Regions from separate parts of the Homo sapiens genome. Here regions 1 and 3 are each linked to region 2. The links come from fine-mapping of genetic effects on gene expression. A gene starts in region 2. Each other region holds a variant in brackets. All regions are shown on one strand. Distances are between the middles of the regions. Region 1 overlaps PBX4 (PBX homeobox 4). Region 2 holds the start of GMIP (GEM interacting protein). Region 3 overlaps LPAR2 (lysophosphatidic acid receptor 2).

The links. PIP is the estimated chance that this variant, and not a neighbour inherited with it, causes the effect.
Region 1: its variant is the best candidate, but not a certain one, in a credible set for the expression of GMIP in whole blood (INTERVAL, PIP 0.84).
Region 3: its variant is the best candidate, but not a certain one, in a credible set for the expression of GMIP in whole blood (INTERVAL, PIP 0.75).

What each region holds. Positions count from the first base shown.
Region 1 is chr19:19,602,842-19,607,012 of GRCh38, reverse strand. All of the region lies in intron 1 of PBX4 (PBX homeobox 4), which reads left to right. Among named protein-coding and RNA genes, the nearest start is that of PBX4, 14 kb to the left of the region's middle. The variant A/G (reference allele first, on the strand shown) is at 2,028.
Region 2 is chr19:19,641,415-19,645,585 of GRCh38, reverse strand. It overlaps GMIP (GEM interacting protein), which reads left to right and starts at 1,929. Exons shown (of 21, transcript NM_016573.4): 1 at 1,929-2,075; 2 at 2,967-3,051; 3 at 3,535-3,610; 4 at 3,719-3,776. The coding sequence starts at 2,057. ATP13A1 (ATPase 13A1) reads left to right here. Exons shown (of 26, transcript NM_020410.3): 26 at 54-388. The coding sequence ends at 164. RefSeq lists a silencer at 1,836-2,085 and enhancers at 2,716-2,875, 2,097-3,052.
Region 3 is chr19:19,620,912-19,625,082 of GRCh38, reverse strand. It overlaps LPAR2 (lysophosphatidic acid receptor 2), which reads left to right. Exons shown (of 3, transcript NM_001395660.1): 3 at 514-1,428. The coding sequence ends at 827. Among named protein-coding and RNA genes, the nearest start is that of PBX4, 4.3 kb to the right of the region's middle. RefSeq lists a silencer at 1,089-1,383. The variant A/G (reference allele first, on the strand shown) is at 2,015.

The DNA of each region.
Region 1 (4,171 bases), 39 kb after region 2:
TTTTTGTTTGTTTGTTTGTTTTGAGACAGAGTCTTGCTGTGTCACCCAGCCTGGAGTTCAGTGGCGCGATCTTGGCTCACTGCAACCTTCACCTCCTGGTTTCAAGTGATTGTCATGCCTCAGCCTCCCAGGTAGCTGGAATTACAAGCATGTGCCACCATGCCTGGCTAATTTTTGTATTTTTAGTACAGACGGGGTTTCACCATGATGGCCAGGCTGGTGGCCAGGCTGGTTTTGAACTCCTGACCTCAGGTGATCCGCCCGCTTCAGCCTCCCAAAGTGCTGGGATTACGGGCATGAGCCACGGCACCCAGCCATAACGTGTCATATACTTGTTAGACATACCAGCACCAACCCCATTTTTCTCCCAACGGTCCCCATTCTCTGGCTTCCAGTCTATCTCATTATCAACTCTCTATTGCTTTATAAGAAATCACCGCAAGCCTAGCAGCTTAAAACAGCAGATATTTATTATCTCACAGTTTCCTTGGGTCAGGATTCTGGGCACAGCTTAGCTAGGTCCTCTGCTTAGGGTCTCACAGGGCTGCAGTCAAGGTGTTGGCTGGGCTATGTTCCTATCCAGAGCATGGGGTTCTCTCCCAGTGTCGCATGGTTGATGGAAGAATTCACTTCCTGCAGTTGAAGCACAAAGGTCCCTGCTTTCTTCCTGGCTGTCAGTTGAGGCTGCTCTCAGCTTTAGAGGCTGCCTGCAGTTCCTGCCACCAGCTGTCATGACATGGCAGCTGGTGCCAGTGGGTGACTCTCTAGTCATCTAAGGTGGAGTCTTAGATAACAACATAACCATGGCAGAGATGATACCATCACCTTTGGCACATTGCAAGTCACAGGTACTTCCTGAACTCAAGGAAAAAGGATTATATAAGGACATGACTCACTGGGGGTTACCTTAGGGTGTGTCTGCCAAGTAAGTGATTTCATCCCCTTGGGGAAGGTCTCACTAGTCAGTCCCCTTTTCCTCACTGATTTGCAGCAGCTGCTTGATCACTGCTAGCTCAAAGACATGCTCAAAGCTTGGGAACTTGTTTTCTTTTCATAGTAAGCCACAGAAACTATGAAATTACTTTGTATGCATTAAAAAGTGCTTTCTACTGTATCTAAAGTAAAATATTTTATAAGGAGAAAACTGGTAAAAAAAAAAAAAAAAAAAAAAATCCTAGAGCCTTTACAGAAGCAGAAGAGCCAACTTCATTTTCTTTCCTCTTATTGTTAAAATTAAGTTTCCAGGCCAGAAACAAGGCTCACGCCTGTAATCCTAACACTTTGTGAGGCCAAAGTGGGAGGATTACTTGAGCCCAAGAGTTTGAGACCAGTCTGGACAACATAGGGAGAACCCGTCTCTGTTTTATTTATTTATTTATTTATTTATGAGACAGGGTCTCACTCTGTCGCCCAGGCTGGAGTACAGTGGTGTGATCACAGCTCACTGCAGCCTTGATCTCCTGAGTTCAAGCGATCCTCCCACCTCAGCCTCCCTAGTAGCTGGGACTACAGGCATGTGCCACCAAACCCAGATAATTTACTTTTTGTATTATTATTATTATTGTTATTATTATTATTATTATTATTATTATTATTTTGAGACAGAGTCTTGTTCTGTCACCAGGCTGGAGTGCTGTGGCGCAATCTCAGCTCACTGTAGCCTCCACCTCCCAGGCTCAAGTGATTCTCCTGCCTCAGCCTCCTGAGTAGCTGGGACTACAGGTGCGCGCCACCATGCCCAGCTGAATTTTGTATTTTTAGTAGAGACGGGGTTTCACCACGTTGGCCAGGATGGTCTCTATCTTTTGGCCTCGTGATCCACCTGCCTTGGCTTCTCAAAGTGCTGGGATTCCAGGCGTGAGCCACTGTGTCTGACAGTTTTTTGTATTTCTTATAGAGCTGGGGTTTCACCATGTTCCCCAGGTTTCTTCTATTTTTATATTAAAATATATTTTTTTTAAAGAGAAAAAGTTAAATTTCCAGAAGATGAGCTATAATCAGAGTCCATTTAAATTAATGTTAATACC[A/G]CTTCTATGGAAAGAAAATGTTTAATATTTTAAGCTGAATATCTCGTGTGATCAATGACTGTATACCTTATAAGAAAGACTAACATGGCCGGGCATGGTGGCTCACACCTGTGATCCCAGCACTTTGGGAGGCCGAGGCAAGTGGATCATGAGGTCAGGAGATCGAGACCATCCTGGCTAATACCATGAAACCCTGTCTATACTAAAAACATAAAAAATTAGCTGAGTGTGGTGGCACGCGCCTATAGTTCCAGCTACTCAGGAGGCTGAGGCAGGAGAATCACTTGAACCTGGGAGGTGGAGGTTGCAGTAAGCCAAGATCGCGCTACTGCACTCCAGCCTGGGTGACAGAGCGAGACTCCATCTCAAAAATAAAAATTAAAAATAAAGAAAGACTAATGTTCAGGTTAGATTTTGGGAAGTTCATATGTCATCTCATCCCCCACAAACATTTTATATTTGAAGTTCAGAGACAAAGATCTTAGTTCTGCACCCCAGTTGTATTCCTTTTTTTTTTTTGAGATGGAATCTCGCTCTGTTGCCCAGACGGGAGTGCAGTGATGTGATCTTGTCTCGCTGCAACCTCCACCTCCTGAATTTATGTAATTCTTGTGCCTCAGCAAGTAGTTGGGATTACAGGTGTACACCACCATGCCCATCAAATTTTTGGCATTTTTAGGAGAGACAGGATTTTGCCATGTTGGCCAGGCTGGTCTCAAACTCCTGACCTCAAGTGATCCCCCCATCTCAGCCTCCCAAAGTGCTGGGATTACAGGCATGAGCCACCATGCCCAACCTCTCATGGTGTTAATCAAATCTGATTTCTGTTGTGAAGTTATTGATTTTCAGATACATTATTCAGCTGTGGCTTTTAATAATGGATCTTTTAATAATGGACGCTTGGATGACAGAGTTATAGGATTTAAAATCATCATAATAGTAAATGTTAATAGCATAGTACTCATCAAAGTTGTTCACAGAAGTTCTGCTACATGCACATACCAGCTACCCTATTCTTTTTTTTTTTTTTTTTTGAGATGGAGTCTCGCTCGCTGGGATGCAGTGGCGTGTTCTCGGCTCACTGCAACCTCCACCCCCTGGGTTCAAGCAATTAAATTATCCTGCCTCATCCTCCTGAGTAGCTGGGATTACAGGCACATGCCATCATGCCCGGCTAATTTTTGTATTTTTAGCAGAGACATTGTCTCACTATGTTGGCCAGGCTGGTCTCGAACTCCTGACTTCAAGTGATCTGCCCACATCAGTCTCCCAAAGTACTGGGATTACAGGCGTGAGCCACTGCGCCTGGCCATTTACTCTATCCTTGCATCATCAAATTCTCTCTCTAGACTGGCTTTTTGGCATATAAACATGTGCTAGTACCTCCTATCTTTAAGAACAGTCAAAGACAACAGGCTGGGCACCGTGGCTCATGCCTATAAGCCTGGCACTTTGGGAGGCTGAGGCTGACCAACATGCCAAAACCCCATCTCTACTAAAAATACAAAAATTAGCTGTGTGTAGTGGTGGGCACCTGTAATGCCAGCTACTCTGGAGGCCGCAGGAGAATCACCTGAACCCATGAGGTGGAGGTTGCAGTGAGCCATGATTGCACCACTGCACTCCAGCCTGAGCAATAGAGTAAGACTCTGTCTCAAAAAGAAAAAAAAGAAAAAAAGAAAAAAAACCCCTTTGACTTACCCTTTGGCCTTGCTTTGTACCCGGGATTTGTTTTAATCAGGTATGGTAAGATGACACACATGGAGACAACTGCCCTGTTGAAAGGGAAGTTTATTACTTACAGCTCCAGAGGAGGGGGCACACCATGCCAGGCAGGGCCACATGGGGAAGCACCTGGGTCAGTGGGCGACAGTGGAGAGAGGGAAAGCACGGCCCAGAACTTTTATAGTGATTTCCTCAGGAAGGAATGGGCATGGCATGGCATGGCAGGCAAGTTTGAGCAAGCTTAGGTTAGATAGTTTAAATAATTTTGGCAGGCTCTGTGCTAGAGGAGTGGTCTCTAGTTGGTCAGTACCTGGCCCTGGGGTGATTTAGGGCTGGGAAATTATTGGCTTTGTGTGTGAGCATTAAATGAAGAAGATGATTGGGAATGTGGGCTTTTGATTGGTTGATTTGCATATGAA
Region 2 (4,171 bases):
ACCCTGAGCTGGGCTGCAGGTCTCCAGCTCACCATCCCTCCCTGCCCCGACAGTTCAAGCTGGTCATTGCCCAGGTCCTGCTCCTGGACTTCTGCCTGGCGCTCCTGGCCGACCGCGTCCTGCAGTTCTTCCTGGGGACCCCGAAGCTGAAAGTGCCTTCCTGAGATGGCAGTGCTGGTACCCACTGCCCACCCTGGCTGCCGCTGGGCGGGAACCCCAACAGGGCCCCGGGAGGGAACCCTGCCCCCAACCCCCCACAGCAAGGCTGTACAGTCTCGCCCTTGGAAGACTGAGCTGGGACCCCCACAGCCATCCGCTGGCTTGGCCAGCAGAACCAGCCCCAAGCCAGCACCTTTGGTAAATAAAGCAGCATCTGAGATTTTAAAAAGCCCTGCCTCCACCTCGTCTGTGCCACACGGTGTTTGCTGGGGGCTCGGGGACAGAGGGTCACTGAGGAAGGTCCCAGCACCCTCCCCACAGGCGTGTGATGTTGGTGAAACCCTCTGGCACTTTCAGCACTTGAACATGGACTTGTCCCTGCCCAGAGAATTCAGTGCATATTTTCTAGTTTAACAAGCACCCCCATATTTCTGAGGTCTCTTTCACATTTTAACAACTCAGGTGCTGAGAGAAGCCTTAGGATGTGTGATATTTTTTTCTTTCCCATAATACATAACAGCATGCCTTTCTCTCGGGTGGTGTCTGAGACTTGAGGAATATGATCTGCATCATTACAAGTATTGACTCTGTCCGGTGGCTCAAGCCTGTAATCCCAGCACTTTGGGAGGCCAAGGCGGGCCCATCACAAGGTCAGGAGATCGAGACCATCCTGGCTAACACAGTGAAACCCCATCTCTACTAAAAATACAAAAAATTAGCCAGGCATGGTGGCGAGTGCCTGTAGTCCCAGTTACTCGGGAGGCTGAGGCAGGAGAATGGCGTGAACCCAGGAGGTGGAGCTTGCAGTGAGCCGAGATAACGCCACTGCACTCCAGCCTGGGCAACAGAGCGAGACTCCAACTCAAAAGAAAAACAAACAAGTACTGACTCTGTCATGCTCTTTGGGGGCCTGCGCTGCTCTACCATCTCATGTCACAGTCAGGGAGCTCTGGCTGAGCATCAGCCAGGATGTGACCTGGAAACCTGGCTTGGCTCTTAGGTTGATAGTGTTATTCCTTTCAATGGACTCACTCATCACAACTCAAGAACTGCAGAGTAGGCAGCACGGAGCCAGTCAGAGAATCCTTGCCTCCTTAACAGCCAAAGCCTTTGGACACAAAGTTATAAACATACTTTAAAGTCTATTTCCAGCCCCAAAATTCCACTGTGCTGGGGGTGGGAGCATTTTTATAACAGGCGGCTTGTGGCAACCCCAGAGCTGGTGCTTTTGGACAAACCTCCACTCCCTACCTAAAAGGGCTGCTCCCTGGTGTGCTGTAATTGGGGCCTTGAGCCTGATCCAGCTTTGAGGGTCACGGAAGGGGCGTCCCCCAGGCCAGGGGTTCTCCAGCCCGAGTATTAGAATTTTGGTTGGAATCGGACAGAATATCAGGCCTCCACCAGGGGGCGCCATGGCTCCAGCGAGGCCCAGGTGGTTTCAGGGCTCCGAGAGACAACCTGGGCAAGGGGATCACCAGGGTCGCGGGTTGTGGGAGCTCCTGGGAGAGGCCCCCCGGGACAGGTGGACTCTGCAACCATTCAGGGAGGAGGGGGCTGGGGCTCCGTGGGATTTGGGGTAGCACAAAGATCTGAGAGGGAACCTATGGCCCAGATGAAGTCTTAGGATGCCCAGGTCAGGGGCACTGCAGCCTCGAGTGGTCGCTCAGGGGGCCCTGGCCCGACCCAGTTTCAAGCGGCTCAGGTAGAGAAGGGCACTATCAAGGCTTCCGGGCTACGGGGGCGTGGTCTGATGCGGGGGCGTGGCCTCCGCTGGGCAGGGCGACGCGGAACCGAGGCGGCGGCGGCGGCTGCGGCGGCAGGAAATCGGGGCTCGGCCCCGCCGGCGCGCGACCCCATCCCCATCCCGGTCCCTGCAGAGCGATCCCCGGGCCCAGATATGGACGCAGCAGAGCCGGGTAGGGGGTCGGGGATCCGGGAGGGGCCTCCCCCGACCATCCCCTGCTTCCTACATTGAGGGCACACACTTGTCCCGCTCCGTCCTGAGAGCCAGGAGAGGAGTTCCTGAATGGGAAGGACCCAGGGATCCTCCATTGTGGGGAGCCCTGTGCCCGGATGGGTTCAGGACCCCAGCCCTTCACTCCCCCTCCCCCTTTTGATCCCTCACCCCAGACGCCTGGGGGAGGGGGCCCAGGAAGGGGAAGTGACTGCTTCTGCTTCTGATTTTTGTGATGGGGGCAGGGTGCCACGACTGCTGAGGGAGAGGGCAACGCGGTAGGATCCCCACAGGGCCCCTCTGTAGCCCTGGGGAGTCGGCAGTGCTGGTCTAGGCCCCTTAGGAGAGGGGGCAGGGGGGCAGCAGTAGAAATGTGGCGGGGTCCGACTTGGTGTTTCCGGCCGTCTTTGTGTCTGTGTTGTGTATGTGGAGTGTCATTCGGTCTTTATGTCCCTCACGGCTTCAGTCTCTCCATGTGTGTTTCTGCCCCAGGCTCTGCCTGGCTGTCCCTTGTGTATTTCCATCTGTCTAGCCCGTGGTTCCATTGTCAGACCGGCTTTCTTCTCGGGACAGCCTGGTTGCATCTGGGGCATCTGTTTTGTTGGTTTGCTTCTGGGTGCAGGCAGACCCAGGGAGTGGGTGTCTCTGTTCCCCGAGCAGCTGTCTCTGGTCTCTGGTGGTGTGTGAGTCCATCTGCCTGCCTCGAGTTGGCCCCAACCAAGCCCCCCCCAGCCCTCTCTTTCTCTCTCTCACTCTTCCCTTTCTCTTCCACCCCCTCCAAATGAGACTGGTTGAGGTGCCGTGGGTGGAGGGAGGCAGTGGTTAGCCCATGTATTACACTCCCCTCCCCTAGGACTCCCCCCAGGTCCTGAGGGCAGGAAGAGGTACAGTGACATCTTCCGGAGCCTGGACAACCTCGAAATCTCACTGGGGAACGTGTGAGTCTGAGCCTGGATCACCCCCAAATCCTGCCAAGATGCCCCAAGCCCCTAACCATTTAGGTGCCTTGCAGTCCCATTTGGAACCTGTAACATCTGGACCTACATACCTAATAACCAGAGAAGTCTAGGATGGGACCCTCCAAAATGCCTCGGTATCCTAAAAGTGTCCCCCTAAATAGACTGGAAATCCCCAAAGTGGTCCTAGAACCCCTACATATCCTTGTAACCCCTTAAAATATTTGCGATCCCTATAATCCCACTCTATGAACCTCAAAGTTATCTGGGGCCCTTCAGATGCTTTTTCAAGTCCTATTTAAAAAAAACTCACCTGATTCCCCCAAAACACCATTCTTCAGACCTCCCAGACACAAGAGATGCCACAGAGGTGATGTTTGCCACAAACAACCCTAAGGTCCCCAGCACCCCTTGGCAGGACAGACTGGGTGTAAGGTGGCATCCTGACACACCTTTATCCCCCAGGACCCTTGAGATGCTGGCTGGAGACCCTCTACTCTCAGAAGACCCAGAACCTGACAAGACCCCTACAGCCACTGTTGTGAGTGGGGAGTAGGGGAACAGGGAGGAAGACCTCAAGCAGAGGGGGCCTTAGGAAGGCCAGGCCCCTGCCCTGTTTGCTTCTGAATACTGTCTCCCTCCCGCACAGACCAACGAAGCCAGCTGTTGGAGCGGCCCCTCCCCAGAGGGTCCTGTACCCCTCACAGGTAGGGGGGTCTGGAGGCCAGGACAGTGGGGACAGACAGGAGTCTTTCCTTCAACAAATCACCACTGATCCCCTGTTCCATGCAAGGCATCGTTTAGGTTTTGGGAATATGGCAGTACACACAACAGATCTCAGTCCCAGCCCTCAGGGAGACCCCAGGCAGGGTGGAGGCTGAGGTAGGAGGATCACTTGAAGCCAGGAATTCGTGACCATGCTGGGCAACAGTAAGACACCATCCCTACCAAAAGAAAAAATATTTTTTTAATTAGCTGGGTGTGGTGGTGTGTGCCTGTAGTCCCAGCTACTTTGGAAGCTGAGGCTGGAGGACTGATTAAGCCCAGGACTTTGAGGCTGCAGTGAGATACGATTGTGCCACTGCACTCCAGCCTGGATGAC
Region 3 (4,171 bases), 21 kb after region 2:
TTCGGGAGGCTGAGGCGGGCGGATCACGAGGTCAGGAGATCGAGACCATCCTGGCCAACATGGTGAAACCCCATCTCTACTAAAATACAAAAAAAAAAAAATATAGCCGGGCATGGTGGCACACACCTGTAGTCCCAGCTACTTGGGAGGCTGAGGTGGGGGAATTGCTTGAACCTGGGAGGCAGAGGTTGCAGCAAGCCAAGATTGTACCACTGCACTCTAGCCTGGCGACAGAGCGAGACTCCATCTCACACACACACACACACACACACACACACACACACACACACACAAAATGTCCAGTGCCTTGGCCACTGTGTACCAATTAGCATAGATGTCCCATCTTAGCAGGCCTTCCTGTCACACTGCAGAATCAGGGAAACAAGCAGCTCTTGCACTGCAAACTTCACCACTATTGCTCGAGCTCTGGAGACCACTCCAACCCCAAACTGAGAGCTGTAGGTGCCGGGCCTCTGACAGCTTGCCCTGCTCACTTCCGCCTCTGTCCCACAGGGGCGTTCGTGGTCTGCTGGACACCAGGCCAGGTGGTACTGCTCCTGGATGGTTTAGGCTGTGAGTCCTGCAATGTCCTGGCTGTAGAAAAGTACTTCCTACTGTTGGCCGAGGCCAACTCCCTGGTCAATGCTGCTGTGTACTCTTGCCGAGATGCTGAGATGCGCCGCACCTTCCGCCGCCTTCTCTGCTGCGCGTGCCTCCGCCAGTCCACCCGCGAGTCTGTCCACTATACATCCTCTGCCCAGGGAGGTGCCAGCACTCGCATCATGCTTCCCGAGAACGGCCACCCACTGATGGACTCCACCCTTTAGCTACCTTGAACTTCAGCGGTACGCGGCAAGCAACAAATCCACAGCCCCTGATGACTTGTGGGTGCTCCTGGCTCAACCCAACCAACAGGACTGACTGACTGGCAGGACAAGGTCTGGCATGGCACAGCACCACTGCCAGGCCTCCCCAGGCACACCACTCTGCCCAGGGAATGGGGGCTTTGGGTCATCTCCCACTGCCTGGGGGAGTCAGATGGGGTGCAGGAATCTGGCTCTTCAGCCATCTCAGGTTTAGGGGGTTTGTAACAGACATTATTCTGTTTTCACTGCGTATCCTTGGTAAGCCCTGTGGACTGGTTCCTGCTGTGTGATGCTGAGGGTTTTAAGGTGGGGAGAGATAAGGGCTCTCTCGGGCCATGCTACCCGGTATGACTGGGTAATGAGGACAGACTGTGGACACCCCATCTACCTGAGTCTGATTCTTTAGCAGCAGAGACTGAGGGGTGCAGAGTGTGAGCTGGGAAAGGTTTGTGGCTCCTTGCAGCCTCCAGGGACTGGCCTGTCCCCGATAGAATTGAAGCAGTCCACGGGGAGGGGATGATACAAGGAGTAAACCTTTCTTTACACTCTGAGGTCTCCAAAACATTTGTTGTTATCAATTCAGTGTTTCTGTCCCTGTGTCCCGGAATTGTCTACCTTGGCCCAAGTCCAGAAAGGATCTTTCAACATGGTATCTCCTTGGCCCTGTGCTCGCTCTTCTTCAGTCTGGCTGGCTGTTATTCCATCTCTCTCTTTTTTTTTTTTTTTTTTTTTAGACAGAGTCTCACTTTGTAGCCCAGGCTGGAGAGCAGTAGCACAATCTCAGCTCGCTGCAACTTCTACCTCCCAGGTTCCAGATTCTTGTGCCTCAGGAGAAGCTGGGATTACAGGCGCGTGCCACCACGTCCAGCTAATCTCTGTATTTTTATTTTTATTATTTATTTATTTGTTTGTTTATCTTTGAGAGGGAGTCTCGCTCTGTCACCCAGGCTGGAGTGCAGTGGCTTGATCTCAGGTTACTGCAACTTCTGCCTCCTGGGTTCAAGCGATTCTCCTGCCTCAGCTTCCCGAATAGCTGGGTTATAGGCATCTGCCACTACACTCGGCTAATTTTTGTATTATAGTAGAGATGAGGTTTCACCAATGTTGGCCAGGCTCGTCTCAAACTCCTGACCTTGAATGATCCACCC[A/G]CCTCAGCTTCCCAAAGTACTGGGATTACAGGTGTGAGCTACCGCGTGCCTGACTAATCTTTATATTTTTAGTAGAGATGGGGTCCCACCATGTTAGTCAGGCTGGTCTCGAACTCTTGACCTCAAGCGATCCACCTACCCACCTTGGCCTCCCAAAGTGCTGGGATTATAGGCATGAGCCACCACGCCTGGCCCCTCTCTCTTACTGGGGTCTTGAATCTGTTTCTCTCTGCTTCTGTTCTTTGTTTCCCCCATCTGTTGCTCTGCCTCCATCTCACTGCCTGTCTCCCTGTCTTTCTCTGCAGCTCAGAGTAGTGTCTGGACCCTATGAGCCCCCTCCCTCCCCACTGCCCTTTTGTTTGAGCCCTGATGGTTCAAGGTCACGTGCCCAGCCGTTTCTATCCCATTCCCCACCACCTGTATTCATACTTCCAGCCACAGGTTGTGGGGTTCAGGTAGTGGGATGCAGGATTTGAGCATGACCATTTCTCAAGCTCTTCTGATGTGCCTGGCATACTGGTAAACACTTTAGGTGCTTTTTTTTTTAAATTTTTTATTTTTTTGTGATGGAGTGTCACTCTGTCCTCCAGGCTGGAGTGTAGTGGTGCAATCTCGGCTCGCTGCAACCTCCGCCCCCGGGTTTCAAGCGATTCTCCTGCCTCAGCCTCCCAAGTAGTTGCGATTACAGGCACCTGCCACCGTGCCCGGCTAATTTTTGTATTTTTGTTAGAGATGGGGTTTCACCATCTTGGCCAGGCTTATCTTGAACTCCCGACCTTGTGATCCACCCGCCTCGGCCTCTCAAAGTGCTGGGATTACAGGCATGAGCCACTGTGCTGGGCTTTTTTTTTTTTTTTTTTTTGAGACGGAGTCTTGCTCTGTTTCCCAGGCTGGACTGCAATGACGTGATCTCAGCTCACTGCAACCTCTGCCTCCCAGGTTCAAGTGATTCTCCTGCATCAGCCTCCCGGGTAGCTGGGATTACAGGGATATGCCACCACACCCAGCTAAATTTTTTATTTTTAGTAGAGATGGGGTTTCACCATGTTGGCCAGGCTGGTCTCGAACTCCTGACCTCAGGTGAGCCGCCCGCCTCAGCCTCTCAAAGTGCTGGGACTATAGGCGTGAGCCGCCATGCCTGGCCTTTTTTTTTTTTTTTTTTTTTTGAGACAGAGTCTCACATGATCTCAGCTCACTGCAACCTCCGCCCCCTCCAGGTTCAAGCGATTCTTCTGCCTCAGCCTCCCAAGTAGCTGGGACTACAGGCATGCACCACCATGTCTGGCTAATTTTTTGTATTTTAATAGAGATGGGATTTCACCATATTGGCCAGGCTGGTCTTGAACTCCTGACCTCATGATCCGCCTGCTTTGGCCTCCCAAAGTGCTGGGATCAGTCTTTCTGATTTTTATGTGAGAACACTGATTCAGACAGGTTGTGATCTGGCCCATGGTAAACACAGCTTGGAGATGGCACATACAGGCCCCGAGGGACCAGAGAGGCCCCTAGGAAAGGGACTTCAGATTCCCACGAAGCCCAGGGTTGGTCCCAAGCTCAGCTGGGCTTTCCCTACCTCACCCCACAGCACCCAACCCATGAGTGCCAGATCCATCATGAGCCCCCTCTGAGATGCTCAGGGAGGCCCCCTCCAAGGCACAGTGTGTGCCAGGATGTCATTCTCTGCTCCCACCTCACCAGTGAGGAGGTGGGGTTATGTCCCTACTTTTGAATCCCATGCTGAATAACAGCTAGAATTTGAACCCAGGTCACTCAGAGATGTGAGCCGCCATGCCCAGCCACCTGTGCCAAATTCTTAAACCACTGAAATATGCATTGTCAAAGAACCCAAAACTCCCAGGTCCTTCTATATTAAATGGCCCTGGCCGAGCACTTTGAGTGCCAAGGCTGCCAACTAATTTCTATGCAGTAGAGACCCCTGATGACCTCCAAATGGCAACAGTGGGACGGGTGAGGTGGCTCATACCTGTAATCCCAGCACTTTGGGCGGCCGAGGCAGGCAGATCACCTGAGGTCAGAAGTTTGAAACTAGCCTGGCCAACATGGTGAAACCTCATTTCTACTAAAAATGCAAAAATTAGCCGGGCGTGGTGGTGGGTGCCTGTAAGCTACTCAGGAGGAGGCTAAGGCAGGAGAAGT